2 separate regions of the Homo sapiens genome follow, and region 1 is linked to region 2. The links come from fine-mapping of genetic effects on gene expression. A gene starts in region 2. The other region holds a variant in brackets. All regions are shown on one strand. Distances are from middle to middle. Region 1 has its middle 3.4 kb from the start of NXNL1. Region 2 holds the start of GTPBP3 (GTP binding protein 3, mitochondrial).

Evidence for each region.
Region 1: its variant is fine-mapped to the expression of GTPBP3 in cerebral cortex (GTEx, PIP above 0.99).

What each region holds. Positions count from the first base shown.
Region 1 is chr19:17,461,607-17,466,973 of GRCh38, forward strand. No RefSeq gene overlaps it. Among named protein-coding and RNA genes, the nearest start is that of NXNL1, 3.4 kb to the left of the region's middle. RefSeq lists an enhancer at 4,882-4,931. The variant A/G (reference allele first, on the strand shown) is at 2,722.
Region 2 is chr19:17,334,227-17,339,545 of GRCh38, forward strand. It overlaps GTPBP3 (GTP binding protein 3, mitochondrial), which reads left to right and starts at 3,327. Exons shown (of 9, transcript NM_032620.4): 1 at 3,327-3,438; 2 at 3,782-4,029; 3 at 4,139-4,225; 4 at 4,313-4,515; 5 at 4,728-4,800; 6 at 4,897-5,040; 7 at 5,208-5,319. The coding sequence starts at 3,386. It overlaps ANO8 (anoctamin 8), which reads right to left and starts at 629. Exons shown (of 18, transcript NM_020959.3): 1 at 339-629. The coding sequence starts at 444. RefSeq lists a silencer at 132-571 and enhancers at 2,296-2,967, 2,968-3,639, 3,640-4,311.

The sequences.
Region 1 (5,367 bases), 130 kb after region 2:
CACTTGAGCCTGGGAGGTTGAGGCTACAATGACTGCACTACTGCACTCCATCCTGGGTGACAGAGCAAGACCTAGTGTCTAAAAATAAAAAATAGGCTGGGCACGGTGGCTCACGCCTGTAATCCCAAAGCTTTGGGAGGTCAAGGTGGGTGGATCACCTGAAGTCAGGAGTTCGAGACCAGTCTGGCCAACATGGAGAAACCCCATCTCTACTAAAAATGCAAAAATTGGCCAGGTGTGGTGGCTCACGCCTGTAATCCCAGCACTTTGGGAGGCTGAGGCAGGTGGATCACAAGGTCAGGAGATCGAGACCATCCTGACTAACACAGTGAAACCCCGTCTCTACTAAAAGTACAAAAAAAATTAGCCGGGTGTGGTGGCGGGCACCTGTAGTCCCAGCTACTCGGGAGGCTGAGGCAGGAGAATGGCGTGAACCCGGGAGGTGGAGCTTGCAGTGAGCCGAGACCGCGCCACTGCACTCCAGCCTGGGTGACAGAGTGAGATTCCGTCTCAAAAAAAAAAAAAAAGCAAAAATTAGACCGGGTGTGGTGGCTCATGCCTGTAATCCCAGCGCTTTGGGAGGCTGAGGCAGGCGGATCACCTGAGGTCAGGAGTTCGAAACCAGCCTGGCCAACATGGTGAAACCCCATCTCTACTGAAAATACAAAAATTAGCGGCTCGTGATGGCACATGCCTGTAATCCCAGCTACTCGGGAGGCTAAGGCAGGAGAACTGCTTGAGCCTGGGAGGCAGAGGTTGCAGTGAGCTGAGATTGCACCACTGCACTCCATCCAGCCTGGGCAACAGAGCGAGACTACATCTCAAAAAAAAAAAAGCAAAAATTAGCCAGGCGTGGTGGTGCATGCCTGTAATCCCAGCTACTTGGGAGGCTGAGGGAGGAGAATTGCTTGAACCCAAGAGGCGGAGGCTGCAGTGAGACAAGATTGTCCCACTGCACTCCAACCTGGGGGATAGAGTGAGACTCTGTCTCCAAAATAAAAATAAAAAAATTTAATATCTGACTTTTTTGTATGTATATTTTTTGAGACTGGGTCTCACTCTGTCAAGGTGCCCAGGCTGGAGTGCAGTGGTGTGATCATGGCTCACTGCAGCCTTGACCTCCAGGGCTCGGGCGATCCTTCTATTTCAGCGTCCCTGTTAGCTGGCACTAGAGTTCTGTGCCACCACGTCTGGCTAATTTTTTGTATTTTTAGTAGAGATGAGGTTTTGCCATGTTGCCCAGGCTGGCCTCCAAGTCCTGGGCTCAAGCAATCCTCCAGCCTCGGCCTCCCAAAGTGCTGGGATTACAGGCATGAGCATGCAACTGGCCACACCTTTTCATAAATATATTAAATCACATTGATTCACATGGACTCTACTAGTTACTTCAAGGTCTAAGTCAGGGTGAGCATCTGTGATATTTTAGGGTGTCTCCTATGATCAGGATGTGATATGAAATTATCTTTGATTTCCACAGGGGACAAAGTTCCAGGGCTAGCCAATGTCTGCATTCACAGTGAGAGGACCTGATGAATTCCAGTTAGAGGCTAATGAAATGGGCCGGGCACAGTGGCTCACACCTGTAATCCCAGCAATTTGGGAGGCCGAGGCGGGAGGATCACCTAAAGTCAGGAGTTCAAGACCAGCCTGGCCAACATATAATGAAACCACATCTCCACTAAAAAAATACAAAAATTAGCTGGGTGTGGTAGCGCACTCCTGTAATCCTAGGTACTCAGGAGGCTGAGGCAGGAGAATCGCTTAAACCCGGGAGGCAGAGGTTGCAGTGAGCTGAGATCACGCCACTGCACTCCAGCCTGGGTTACAGAGTCAGACTCTGTCTCTAAAAAAACAAAACAAAACAAAATGGGGGGACTGGGCGCGGTGGCTCATGCCTGTAATCCCAGCACTTTGGGAGGCCAAGGCAGGCGCATCACGAGGTCAGGAGATCGAGACCATCCTGGCTAACATGGTGAAACCCTGTCTCTACTAAAAATACAAAAAAAAAATAGCCGGGCATGGTGGCGGGCACCTGTAGTCCCAGCTACTGGGGAGGCTGAGGCAGGAGAATGGCATGAACCCGGGAAGCGGAGCTTGCAGTGAGCCAAGATCGCGCCTCTGTACTCCAGGCTGGGCGACAGAGTGAGACTCCATCTCAAATGAAAGGAAGAAGAAGAAGAAGAAGAAGAAGAAGGAGAAGGAGAAGGAGAAGGAGAAGGAGAAGGAGAAGGAGAAGGAGAAGGAGAAGGAGAAGGAGAAGGAGAAGGAGAAGGAGAAGGAGAAGGAGAAGGAGAAGGAGAAGGAGAAGAAGAAGAAAAGAAGAAGAAGAAAAGAAGAAGAAGAAGAAGAAGAAAGAAGAAGAAGAAAATGTATTTTTTTTTCTCCATCCTCCTGAATTCTGTCTGGACCACCCACACCTTAAGATTGTAGATGTGTAGGTGTAGAAGGCTGAAAGTCATGGATATTATATTTTGCATCTCCAACTCCAACCCTGTCAAAGGGTAGAGACTAGTTCTGCCCCCCCTTGAATCCAGGTAGGTTTCATGACTTGCTTTGACGTATCAAATGTGGTGGAATGGGCTAAGCGCGGTGGTTCAGCCTGTAATCCCAGCACTTTTGCAGGCTGAGGCAGGCGGATCACTTGAGGTCAGGAGTTCGAGACCAGCCTAGACAACAATGGTGAAACCCTGTCTCTACTAAAAATACAAAAATTAGCTGGGC[A/G]TGGTGGCAGGTGCCTGTAATCCCAGCTACTCAGGAGGCTGAGGTGGGAGAATTGCTTGAATTCGGGAGGCGGAGATTGCAGTGAGCTGCGATCGTGCCATTGCACTCCAGCCTGGGAGACAGAGCACGACTCCGTCTCAAAAATAAATAAATAAAATAGAATGTGGTGAAATGTGTGAGTTTCAAAGATGTCTTCATTTTATTTTATTTTTCAGAGACGGGGTCTCAATCTATCATTCAGGCTGAAGTTCAGTGGTACAATCATAGCTTACTGTAGTCTTGACCTCCTGGACTCATGGGATCCTCCTGCCTCAGCCTCCTGAGTAGATGGGACTACAGGTGCATGCCAGCATGCCCGTCTAGTTTTAAATTTTTTTGTAGAGGTCGGGTCTCACTCTTTTGCCCATGCTGATCTGGAACTCCTGGTCTTAAGCGATACTCCCGCCTTAGCCTCTCAAAGTGCTGGGATTACAGCTGTAATGTGCCTGGCCTGAAGAGTATCTTTAGTTTCCTTCTGCCTCTCATTTTACTCTTGAAACTCTATTGGGACCCCATGTAAGAAAGCTGATCTAGGCAGGGCAAATTTGCTCATACCTGTAATCCCAGCACTTTGGGAAGCTGAGGCGATCAGATCTCTTGATCCCAGGAGTTCAAGAGTAGCCTGGGCAACATAGCAAAACCCCCTCTACAAAAAAATACAAAAATTATCTGGGCATGGTGGTGCACCTGTAGTCCCAGCTACTTGAGGGTGCTGAGGCTGGAGGATGACTTGAGCCTGGGAGGTCAGGGATGCCGGGAACTGAGATGATGCCTCTGTACTCCAGCCCCCAGGCAATAGAGTGAGACCCTGTCTAAATAAATAAATAAATAAATAAATGCAAGCAGATCTAGGTATGGCACAGTGGCTCATGCTCATGCTTGTAATCGCAGCAATTTGGCAGGCCAAGGCAGGAAGATAGCTTGACCCCAGGAGTTCAAGACCAGCCTAGGCAATGTGGCAAAACCCTGTCTCTACAAAAATTAGCCAGGTGTGGTGGCACACGCCTGTGGTTCCAGGTACTCGAGAGGCTGGGGTGGGAGCCTCTCCCTCCTGAGCCCAGGAGGTCAAGGCTGCAGTGAGCTGGGATCGTGCCACTGCACTCCAACCTTGGCCACAGACTGAGACCCTGTCTCAACAATAAAAAGGAAACAAGGGGCGGGGCGCGGTAGCTCATGCCTGTAATCCCAGCACTTTGGGAGGCCAAGGCAGGTGGATCATGAGGTCAAGAGATCAAGACCATCCTGGCCAACATGGTGAAACCCTGTCTCTACTAAAAATACAAAAATTAGCTGGGCATGGTGGCACATGCCTGTAGTCCCAGCTACTTGGGAGGCTGAGGCAGGAGAATCGCTTGAACCCGGCAGGAGGAGGTTGCAATGAGCCAAGATCACGCCACTGCACTCCAGCCTGGCGACAGAGTGAGACTCTGTCTCAAAAAAAAAGAAAAAGAAAGAAAGAAAAGAAAGAAAGAGAAGGAAGGAAGGAGGGAAGGAAGATAGAAAGACAAAAGAAAGAAAGAGAGAGAGAGAAAGAAAGAAAGAAAGAAAGAAAGAAGCTCTAGTCCAGGGCTCTGTGCCTCTTGTCTGTAGAGGACTAGGAGGTAAACACTTTCATCTTTGAAGTCCATGTGGCCTCTGTTGAGAACCATAGCTCTCATCTTTCCTCCTTCTGTAGTGGGTTGAACTACAGGCTCCCCACAAAAAGATATATCCATGCCTTCGCCCCCGGAACCTGTTAATGGGACCTTGTTTGGAAGGAGTCTTTGCAGGTGTTACTTAGTTAAGGATCTTGAGATGACATCATCCTGGATTATCTGAGTGGGCCCTAAATCCAATGACTGATGTTGTAAACGGGAGCGTGACCGCTGAAGCACAGCATCACAGGGGCACGTTTAGGCCTCTGGATGGCTGCGGGCGGGCCTGACTAATGTCAGGCCTTCCACAAGAGGTGGTGGAGCAGAGTCTTCTCTAACTCCCCTGGGGAAAGGGAGACTCCCTTTCCAGGTCGGCTAAGTAATGGGTGCCTTCCCAGGCGCTGGCGTTACCGCTAGACCAGGGAGCCCTCTAGTGGCCCTGTTCGGGCATGACAGAGGGCTCACACTTGTCTTCTGGTGACTTCTCACTGTGTCCCTTCAGCTCCTACCTCTGTATGGCCTGGTTTTTCCTAGGTTATAATTGTAGAACAGAGATTATTTTAATATTGGAATAAAGAGTAATGCTACAAACTAACGAATGATTAATAATATTCATATATAATCATATCTATATTCTATTTCTTGTATAACTATTCTTATTCTATATATTTTGTTTATTATACTGGAACAGTTTGTGCCCTCGGTCTCTTGCCTCGGCACCTGGGTGGCTTGCCGCCCACAGAGGTGATCAGTCCAAGACTACCTGGCTAGAAACGAGCAGAGAGCAGTTTGGCCCGGAAGCCTGAGTTTTACTCCCTGGTCCACATCTCAGTTTCCTGGGGATAGGACAGTCCCCAATCCCTCATCTGAAATCCCTGGGGACAGCTGTGTTTGTGAATTGGGAGATTTTGTATTTTAGGAAAACAACTGGGGGCAGAGGCTGCTGTATACCCGTGCTGTTTTAGGGGGCTCA
Region 2 (5,319 bases):
GGGATTTGAACCCAGGACCGTATGATTCTGTATTCTTCGCGGAGAGGCTCTCTCAAGCACATCCCTGGCCCGCCGCGATCCCGCAGCCCGGGGGTGGCAGGGCGCAGCCCAAGCCTGGGGCTCTCGGAGGGGCGTGTCCGCGTCTCCGCGCCGGGACCCCAGCCCGAAGCACCGTCCCAGCCCCGCCCGCCGGGCCGCAGCCGCAGTGCCGGGAGGAGCCGGCCCCTCGTCCAGACACCACGCCAGGTTACGTTTGACCCTGATCCTCCTCCCCGTGTAGTTGACGCGGGCTCCCCAGGCACCTGCAACCCTGTCTGGTCCAGCCGCCGCACACATACCCAGAACTCCGGACGCCGGGGCTGCAGGCTCGCCCTCCGGCGGGGGCCTCTTGCCACGCTCGCCCTCCAGGGACGTGCCCCCGGCGCCGGAGGCGGCCTCGGCCATGGCGAGGACAGGTCAGGTCAGGGGCTACGGACGGCCCGGGCGACGGGGAGCCGCGGGCTCATGGGGCCGGTGCAGCCGCGGAGCGCGCGGGAGGAGGAGACAAAGGCCGCGCCCGCCCGCGCCGGCCTCGGTCCTCGCTCGCCCGAGCGCTGCTTCTCGTCCCCGCCCGAGCCGAACCTCGATTCTCCTTCCCGGCCCGATGCACGTCACTCTAGGGTTCTCAGCTGAGTTCGCCCGCCTAGTTCTTTGGTTCGCGTCTCCGCCCGTGTTGTTTTCTGGGTTTCCTTCTCGCCCGCCTACCTCGCTCCCTGCTGCTGGTCCCCGCCCGCACTGATGGTGCATTCTCCAACTTGTCCCCACCCATGCTTTCTTCTGGTCCCCGCCTCGGAGCCTCAGTTTCCCCATCTGCAAACTCCGGACCCTGGAGACGCTGTTTGGAATGTGAGATGGGCGTAAGTTGACTAAGGGAGGACGTGGGAGGGGCGGGCCGGTTGGGGAAGATTCCTGGTGACAATAACTTCAACCACCCCAGTAGGGCTGTGATACATAATTACAGCAAGCCCTGCTTAGGAACTTTGCACGCACCATTTGGCTGCCTAGAACACTCCTCATGCACTCTTCGTCCGGTTAACACCGACTCCCTTCAGGATGTAACCTCGGAGAGGATCCCATAGAGTTGTCAAGTTTAGCAAATAAAAATACAGTCCGTCTAGTTAAATGTAAATTTCAGATAAAAGAATAAATGTTAGCTGGGCGGGGCGCACCTGTAATCCCAGCTACTTGGGAGGCTGAGGCAGGAGAATCGCTTGTGCTCAGGAGGTCAAGGCTGCAGTGAGCTGAGATCACACCCACTGCACTGCATCCTGGGCGACAGAACGAGACCCTGTCTCAAATACATATATATACATACATACATAAATGTTTCTATGTCCTATGTCTACATGGGACATACTAGTACTAAAAAATTATTCATTGTTTATTTGAAATTCACATTTAGCTGGGCGACCTGGGTTTTACCTGGCATTTGGCCAACCCCTGACTATTCTGAGTAGCTCAGTCTGTTAGACTGAAAGCCCAGCGAGGGTAGGAACGAGGGGCCAGGTCTGGTTCTCAATGCGAGCACACAGTAGGCGCTTGCTGTACGCTTGTTACAGATGTAACAACTAGCTTGTTACAGATGTAATAACTAGCTTGTTACAGATGTAACAACTAGAGAATGGCAGATGAAATATAAATATGTCATCATTTGTTCCTATTTTACAACTTAAAATATTAAAGCCTCGGCCGGGCGCAGTGGCTCACGCCTGTAATCCCAGCATTTTGGGAGGCCAAGGCGGGTAGATCACCTGAGGCAAGGAGTTCGAGACCAGCCTGACCAACATGGCCAAACCCTGTCTCTATTAAAAATACAAAAAATTAGCCAGGCATGGTGGCGCACGCCTGTAGTCCCAGCTACTTGGGAGTCTGAGGCAGGAGAATCGCTTGAACCTGGGAGGCGGAGGTTGCAGTGAGTCTAGATCGCGCCACTGAACTCCAGCCTGGGCGACAGAGCGAGACCCCGTCTCAAAAAAAAAAAAAAAAAAAAAAAAAAGCTTGGGCAACGTAGTGAGATCCCCGTCTCCACCAAAAAAACGAAAACAAAACAAACAAACAAAAACAACAAACAAAAAGAAACACCGAAAAGTTAGACTGGCATGGTGGCTCGCGCCTGTGGTTCCAGCTACTCAGGAGGCTGAGGCGGGCGGATCCCTTGAGCCCAAAAGTTGGAGGTTGCAAGAGCCGTGATCGCGCCACTGCACTCCAGCCTGGGCGACAGAGTGAGACCCTGTCTCAAAAATAAAATAAAATAAAATAATAAAGTAAATAAAAATATTGAGCAGGGCGAGGTAAGGGGGTATTAGAACTCTATTCTGTCAGACAGATTTTTCTTAACACGCAAGTGCGCCGCCCGCCCGCTCTGATCCAGAACCAGAGAATCCGCCATGCGAAGGCGCTCCCGGAGACCCCGCCCAGCCAGTGCCTGGAATTCCACCATCAGCGCTTTATTCCGAGTTTCAGTGCTGTCCTGGGTTAACCTGAAAGCAATCTCCGAGGCTCCCCTTTCTGGCTTTCGGGGAGCCAGAGACTGACCGGACACTTGGCTCTGCAGGTGCAGACCTGGACCAGAGAGACAGAGAGCCAAGGAAGTCCACAGTGGAGAGAGGGCTGTGCTGGGGGTTCCAGGAAGACTTCCTGGAGGAGGGGATCTTGGAGCTAGGCCTTGAAGACGAGTTTGTCAAATGAGGAAGGGCATCCGAAGCCGAGGGAACGGCAGAAGGGAACGCTGGGGAGGGGAGAGAATCTGGAGAGTTCCGGAAAAAGCAAGTAGGACTCTTTCCAGAAGTTCGGGCAAGATTTTCCCTGGATCAGGGCGTGGGTTCTCCAGTACTCGTCCCTCCCGGTCACCGAGATGCTCTGAGTTTCCGGTCTGAACCTGAACGTAAAGAGGTGTAGTCCCTCCTTTCTTGAACGGGAAAACTGAACGCACATAGGTCCTTGCCACGCCTAAGGCTGCGGAGTGAGCAGATGGAAAATGCGGGACTCAAAACCTCCCCTCGCTGTAATTTGCACTGCCCTGTGCCAAACTCTGTCCTTTCTTCCATTCCTTATTCCTATTGTCAGCCTCGCTGCGCTAGGACCCTAAAAATTTGGTCTCATGTTGCCCGGGGAACAACATTTCGCTACACCTACCTCCATACCGCCTCCCGCTCCCGCTCTCCCTTGCACCAGCCAATGGAAGCGAGTATCTTCAGACGGTGGGCAGGACGTATCCTAAGATACCCAATGGTGGTCGAGAATAGTTGAGCACTTTACTAGTCAAGCCGCGGAGTGGGCGGGGCCCCCTGCCCAGACTTGAAGCCACACAGGCAGGTCGGGCAGGCGGGTCGCAGGTTGTAAATCCATGTGGCGGGGGCTTTGGACCCTGGCGGCCCAAGCGGCACGTGGGCCTCGCAGGTGGGGCTACAGGGGAAGGGGTGCGACAGCTTGGGGTGCTGCTTGGACCCCAGACCCACTCCCTGGGTTTTAGGGGCCCAATTCCCTGCGGCAGAGCAATCATTCGCGTTCTTCCGTGCCTCAATCGTTCATGACCCTTGCGGCAGAGCCCATATCTGGGTCTCCTTCTGGCCTCACAGTCCCTAATCCGGTCACCCTTCGGCCTTCAGAACATCCAATTTGTGCATCCCCCAGCCGCAGAACCCCCCCACCTGGAGCATCTCGCGATCATCGAGCCCTCGGTCTACTTGACACTGAGGCTGAGCCTCCCAGGTGCGCTGATTCGCCTCCCCTCCGGTTCCAGATTGTGCACGCGCCGGAGCAGCGGCGCACCAGCCCCCGGCTCCGGCGCCACCATCTTCGCGCTAAGCTCTGGCCAAGGCCGCTGCGGCATCGCAGTGATCCGGACCAGCGGCCCCGCCAGCGGCCACGCCCTCCGAATTCTCACAGCACCCCGAGACCTGCCCCTTGCTCGCCACGCCAGCCTGCGCCTGCTCAGCGATCCCCGCTCCGGGGAGCCTCTGGACCGCGCACTGGTGCTCTGGTTCCCAGGTGAGGGTCCCCAGGTTCCGAGCCTCCTGTAGGTCCCATGACTCAGTTTCCCCCTTCCAAGGGTTTGCACTGGCTGTGCTGTCCTCCTGTCACCTGTCTGTCACATTAGGTCCCCAGAGTTTCACCGGTGAGGACTGCGTGGAGTTCCACGTGCATGGAGGCCCGGCAGTGGTGAGCGGCGTCCTGCAGGCCTTGGGTGAGTTGCAGCGTTGGGTGAGATGCTTGGTCCTCCCAATGGGCCTGGGTGGGGACCAGGGGGTGTCAGACTGGGACCTTCCTGCAGGCAGCGTGCCAGGGCTTCGACCGGCGGAGGCAGGCGAGTTCACCAGACGGGCGTTCGCCAATGGGAAGCTGAACCTGACCGAAGTGGAGGGGCTGGCGGACCTTATCCACGCGGAAACAGAGGCGCAGCGGCGGCAGGCCCTCAGGCAGCTGGACGGAGAGCTGGGCCACCTCTGCCGTGGCTGGGCCGAGACCCTCACCAAAGCAAGTCCCCCATTTGTCCATTCTCTCCCTCAGAGACCCCATCTGTGCAACCCCTGCATGAGACCCCCTCTCAATCCCGCATTCATTCCCTGCGTGAAAGCTTCCGGCCTATGAGCCGCCATTCTGGCCCCTGAAGTCGGGCTGGACAAATTGGGTGTGGGAAGGTGGGTTTCTGGGTGCACACACCACCTCTGCTCTCCCTGCCCCGCCAGGCTCTGGCCCACGTGGAGGCCTATATCGATTTCGGCGAGGATGACAACCTGGAGGAGGGGGTCCTGGAGCAAGGTGGGTCTACCTGGTGGTGGGGGAGGAAGACACCTCATATCAGCCCTCAAAGGCTCCCCTCACTGTCTCTCTCTGCCTGCCTTCTCTCACCCACAGCCGACATCGAAGTACGGGCACTGCAGGTGGCCCTGGGTGCACATCTACGAGATGCCAGGCGCGGGCAGAGGCTCCGCTCAGGGGTGCACGTAGTGGTCACTGGACCCCCCAATGCGGGCAAGAGCAGCCTAGTGAACCTGCTCAGTGAGTAGGCGGCGGGAAGGGGGCGGGGCCTAGTGCCAGGGGCGGGGCCAAGAGCTGGGTTATTGAGTTAGTTGTTCAGGTCTAAAGCTCCCTCCAGACATGGGGTAGAACCTGGGGGAGGAGCTCCCTTGTCTCCACCCTCTCCTCTTCTTCTGACCCTCCCCCAGGTCGGAAGCCTGTGTCCATCGTGTCCCCGGAGCCAGGGACCACCCGTGACGTGCTGGAGACCCCAGTCGACCTGGCCGGATTTCCTGTGCTGCTGAGCGACACGGCTGGGTT